Linked DNA regions of Homo sapiens: region 1 is linked to region 2. Evidence: fine-mapped expression QTL. A gene starts in region 2. The other region holds a variant in brackets. All regions are shown on one strand. Distances are from middle to middle. Region 1 overlaps JAM3 (junctional adhesion molecule 3). Region 2 holds the start of JAM3 (junctional adhesion molecule 3).

The links.
Region 1: its variant is fine-mapped to the expression of JAM3 in skeletal muscle (GTEx, PIP 0.99).

What each region holds. Positions count from the first base shown.
Region 1 is chr11:134,146,342-134,149,209 of GRCh38, reverse strand. It overlaps JAM3 (junctional adhesion molecule 3), which reads right to left. Exons shown (of 9, transcript NM_032801.5): 7 at 534-663; 8 at 392-446; 9 at 1-64. The coding sequence ends at 29. Among named protein-coding and RNA genes, the nearest start is that of SNORD153, 3.6 kb to the left of the region's middle. The variant T/C (reference allele first, on the strand shown) is at 1,684.
Region 2 is chr11:134,067,787-134,070,696 of GRCh38, reverse strand. JAM3 (junctional adhesion molecule 3) reads right to left here and starts at 1,625. Exons shown (of 9, transcript NM_032801.5): 1 at 1,538-1,625. The coding sequence starts at 1,613. RefSeq lists a silencer at 1,631-1,820.

The DNA.
Region 1 (2,868 bases), 79 kb before region 2:
CTGTGCGCTCTCAGCCACACCGCGGGTCTCAGATCACAAACGATGACTTGTGTCTGAAGTCGCCCTGCAAAGCCAACACACAGTTAGAGCCATCAAGGGGCCTGGTGGCAAGCAGGGAAAAACACGGAGTAAGTCTAACATGGGCTAAATACAGATGGAATAATCATTCTTAAAAAGTACCATCACTAGCGCTTGCAAAGCACAAATCCCATTAGTGTGTGTGTGTGTGTGTGTGTGTGTGTGTGTGTGTGTGTTACTGTGAAGGGGCTGAGGAGCTCAGGAGCTGCACAATCACTCAGAAATCTTCCCAGGAGACCCGTGTGGTTTCCAAGGGGGAATGTTGTTTTCCCTGCTGGGTACACCTAGGTTTCCAGGTTTACTAAATGATTACCTCCTCGTCAGTGCGGATGTAGTTAACTCCATCTGGTTTCCCTGGGTTCTTGTAACTATGAGGAGAAGAGAGCAGTTTAGCAACAGGGTTGTTATATTATTGCCAGCTTGAACTTCCCTTTTTTCACATAAGGCAGGCTCACCTTTCTCCATCCTGTTTATTGTTGATGAAGTAGCCACGTCTGTATGCACAGCAGATGCCCAACGTGATCAGGGCCAGTACAGCAAGGACAACCAGAACCCCCCCAATAATTCCGCCAATGTTCAGGTCATCTGAAGAAAAGGAGGTTTGGTGGAAGCCATGATACACACTATCTGTTATTTAAAAAGGCCCTGGCCCTGCTGTGCCTCCTTCCTTCACCCCAAACCCACTTGCCCCCTGCCCCCTCAGGCCTACCCCAGCTAGAAGAGAGAACACTTACAATCCTTCTAGCCTAGAACATATAGGACACCATAACTCCTAACTTCACACGTGAAAAGTACTGAGACTTCTACAGTTGAAATGCAGTCGCACTGAAAAGTGTATTAAAGTGGGCTTGGCACTGTAGGCTTAAAAATCCTCTGGCTGAATGCCTGAGATTACTTATGGAGGAAATGGTTATGAGGACAAGATTAGGAGCCAGGATCCCAAGAAGAAAAGAATCCCTAATTTCCAGGGCCTCCCTTTGTTGCAGATTGCTGCGGGGAAGAAAGGTAGCTTCAAGCCTTAAAGAATCTGTCTCAAAAAACAAACAAGTAAAGAATCCTAGGTAAGAACTAGAGCTTTGTCTCTGCCGGCTGCCTGACCTCCGATCTATAAGCCCTCTGAGAGGAAACCCCCTGGAACCCTTTTCTCATGTCTATACACTGGGCAAAGGCACTGGGTCACTTTCATATGGGGCTCTGGCAGCCGTTCCTTCAAGCAAGCGACACATGGAAAACTATGCAGGGAATTTATCAACAAGAGCCAAGTAACTTGGAAGTTTTAAAAAAATCTCCTTTATCCTAGTGTATTGGTTCTCAAAGATGAATGTACACTTAAAAATCAACTTGCAGGCCGGGCGCGGTGGCTCACGCCTGTAATCCCAGCACTTTGGGAGGCCGAGGTGGGCAGATCACGAGGTCAGAGATTCGAGACCATCCTGGCTAAGGTGGTGAAACCCCGTCTCTACTAGAAACACAAAAAATTGGCTGAGCGTGTTGGCAGGTGCCTGTAGTCCCAGCTACTCAGGAGGCTGAGGCAGGAGAAAGGTGTGAACCCGGGAGGCGGAGCTTGCAGTGAGCCGAGATTGTGCCACTGCACTCCAGCCTGGG[T/C]GACAGAGCGAGACTCCATCTCAAAAACAAAAAGTAAACTTGCAATCGTTTTTTTTTTTTTTTTTTTGAGACAGAGTCTTGCTCCGTCACCGTCACCCAGGCTGGAGTTCTGTGGTGCAATCTCGGCTCACTGCAAGCTCCGCCTCCCGGGTTCAAGGGATCCTTCTGCCTCAGCCTCCCAAGTTACTGGGACTACAGGCGCCTGCCACCACACCAGGCTAATTTTTGTATTTTTAGTAGACACAGAGTTTTGGCATGTTGGCCAGGCTGGTCTTGAACTCCTGACCTCAGGTGATCCACCCGCCTCAGCCTCCCAGAGTGCTAGGATTATAGTGTGAGCCACCACGCCTGGCATGCAATTTTGATGTTAAAATGTCAATTCCCAAGTTTCATCACTAAAAAGTCAATAGGCTAAAGTAGGTCTGGGGCAAAACTGCAGGAGAAAACAACCCTAGAGCAGAGTTTCTCAAACGTGACACATGAGAAGAATCCTTCGGAACGCTTGTCTCACACACAGACATTTCTAGCATATGTCTGAGGTGGGCTCGAATCTGTATGTGAAACAGTGGTCCCAAATGGGTATCACCAGGCAGTTTTGGAAAATGCTGCTCTGAGGAGAGCTCCAAATAGGGAGGAGGGAAGGATTCAAAAAATGCTCCTGGCTGGGCACAGTGGCTCATGCCTGTTAATCCCAGCACCTGGGGGAGGCCGAGGCAGGAGGATTGCTTGAGGCCAGGAGTTTGAGACCAGCCTGGGCAACACAGTGAGACCCCGTATCTACAAAAAATAAAATTAGCTGAGCATGGTGGTGTGTGCCTGTTGTTCCAGCTACTCAGGAGACTGAGGTGGGAGAATGGCTTGAAGGCTGGGTTTGAGGATGCAGTGACCTGTGACTGCACTCACTGCACTCCAGCCTGGGCAACAAAGCAAGACCCTGTGGTGTTTTTTGTTTTTTGTTTTTTAAGAAAAAAAAAAGCTCCCCAAGTGATTTGGACACATCCTCTCTGCCCCCACCCTCCTCTCAACGCCCCTCCATTAGGGGAACCAGAGCCCTGAGATAACATTACTCTAGGGGCTAAGCTTTGTCTGCAGGTAAAATTACTCGGGCTAAAACTGTCAGTTTTCTACAAGAGGGTTATAACTGGATAAATTTCTGGAGACCTGACACCACCTTACATTTTGATA
Region 2 (2,910 bases):
AACAGATCTTTTCAACAATAGAGAGTTGTTCCAGGCTGTGAATAGGACAGTGTCAGTGTGACCAACACAGCGGGTGCTGGACATTCCTGACACCCTTGTCCCCTGGCTAGCCTTTGATCACTTATCTCCCAACAGCATTTGGTTTTGGGAATCACTTTCAGGCAAAGTATACAGACTTTGCCTTAGCGTACATAATCTATACGCTAAAACTCATCTTTTGTCACAGCCCATCACGAGCATCCCATTAGCATAAAGCACCAAACACAGGAATGCTTTGTTTTCCAAAATCTGTCCACCTTCACTCCTAAACAGTCCCTCCGTGTTTTAATTTGTATATTCTGGAAAACATCATGGGATGACAGTGGCAATTCAAACAATAAAATAATCTAAGAACCGAAAAAGGTCCTGGTCTGGTTACCTGCGGATGGCTGCCAGGGGAAGAGTGTGGTGTCCTGCTTTAGGTAAATATGAAGTTGAGGCTTCACTACTTAGAATGCAGCCTTGGAAAGCAGACTAGACTTGACTCTGAAAATGGATTAATGAAACCTATCTCACAGAGCTGCTGAAAGGAGTAAACGAGATAATGGCTCCAAAGTGCCTAGTAGACAGTACAAGCTCACTAAAGGAAAGCTATTTTAGTCCTCTGTACAACTGTCCAGGAAAATGTGGATCTAATGAGAATTCCAAACAGAGGGAAAGAAAATGCACAAAACTATCAAGTTTATTAGTGTGTCTTGATCAAATGCCCCGAATGCTATTTCCGGATAAGAGTCTGCGTGGTCTCCTCGGCCAGGCCAGAGACAAAAAAGGTACTGGATTGATATCCATTTTATTTCTGTAAAAGAAAAGCAGTTCCTTTGTGTCGAGTCAAATGAACTGCAGATCCCCAGAGGGCTGTGACCAAGCAGCCCGCCAGGCCTCGGAGCTCTGCCTCGCCGGTCCTCAGCTACGTCCCCCGCTCACCGTCCCTTCTGGAGAGCACAGCACTGCTGCGCAGGGTCTTCCAGCAAGTTCCAGCGCCCACGCCGCAGCTGCCGCGCTCCCTCCAGAGGGCCGTGCCCACCGCCCGGGAGGGGTCCACCCCGGGGACGAGCCCACCGCCCAGCACAGGACCCCGCCTGGGAGGAGCCCACCCGGGGGATGAGCCCACCGCCCAGCACAGGACCCCGCCTGGGAGGAGCCCACCCGGGGGATGAGCCCACCGCCCAGCACAGGACCCCGCCCGAGAAGAGCCCGCCCCCGGGGTCCGACGGCTGTCCGGGACCGACTCACTGCCTGGGACGGGCCCCCCATCCCAAATTAGCTCCCCGCCCCGGTCCAACTGCCGGGCGTCCCAGGGCCCCCGCCCTAGCCAGGCCCGAGTCCCAGCCCTGGCTGCGGGGACGCGGGCGCGCGCCGCCCCTCCGGCCCGGGACCCCGGGAGCCCTCGGAGCCAGGACCGCTATCCTCGCCCGGACCGGCTCCAGCAGCTTCGGCCCGCTCTGCTTCCGTCGCCCCCAGACCCTAGTCTCCCAACAGCGGAAACGCGCAAACTCACCCCTGAAAAGCAGCAGCAGGAAGAAGTCAGGCAGCCGAGCGCAGAGCCGGAGTCGCGGTGGCCGCCTCAGCGCCATGTCGAGGGTTGCTGAGGGGCCAGCGGCAGCGCGGCGCGGCTTGTAGTCCCCGCGCGCATGCGCCCAGCCTGCCAGGACCCTGCGACCCGCCCCAGTTACCATGGCGACCGCCGGGCCCAGCCGAGCCGGCACCATGGTGACAGAGGAAGCTGAGGTCTAGCTGCTTACGGATGCAGCGATGCTCTGGACCGGCACATGGGTTCTCTTTCAATGAACTTGGCGGGAGGAGAGTAAAGAAGTATGTACAAGAGTGAAGCAGGGTATATTTCCATAGCTATAGAATAAATCCATCACAACAGGTCGGAGAAGGAACACTCCTTTAAAATTTGGGAAATAAAGTATTTCTTATTTTACAAATAAGGATGCAGCCCAGTTATCTTGGAAGCATTATCGCCTTCACATCTTTTGGGCCCCCAATTCCAAATTGATGGAAGGAAAAGAGCTGAAATCTGCTTAAAACATAAGCAATACATACATTATACAGCATATAAAAGTGATGTCTTGCTAAAATAATTTGTTTATGTGGTAGATCAAAAGCATGATGGCATACCCAATAGTTTATTCTGCAGAAAAGCAGACTAATTATTTGCTCTGATTTCTGAATACTGGGAGATAGTAAAACCAGGGAAGAACAGGTAAGATGAGGACAAACAGGAAAAATGAAGAGAAGGATAAATTAAAGCAGAAATTAGATCTAAAAAAGCAAGAGTATTTAAAGTCTCACTTAATACTATGGAAAATACTTGAAAAGCTTGTATTTTAGCAAGTATAGAAAGTACACCTCCAATGTTCCCAGAAACAGCAGTCTAGCAACAGAATTCTGAATATAATTGTTAGTAAAATAAGCCAGTTTCCAACTAATATTTTTAATGTTTAACTTTTTCATATACTCATGCTACTTTTTTAGTATTTTTAGTTTTCATGCAAAATAGAAGTATATTTACATATTATGTATACCAAATTTATATATGTAAAAGCCGGGAAACGTGAAATAGATTGAGATTGTTGCCAAGAATATGCTTCAGTTTCCATCACTGTATAATCTTCTTTGTAAATCTTTATAACTGCTCAGATCTTTATGTTAATTGATTACCTTCTCAAAAATCTTATAAAGACAGAATAAAAATTAAAAAATAACTCAATTACCTACTATGATTCTGTCTTTCCTTTCATAAATCTTCTTTATGTTCCAGGTCACCATGCACTAAATCACAAGTAAAAGTGTGTAAAAGTTGTTTTATAATGGTGGCCTCTTTCCCTTTATCAAGCACAAAATCGAGAAATTAAAAAGAAGAAA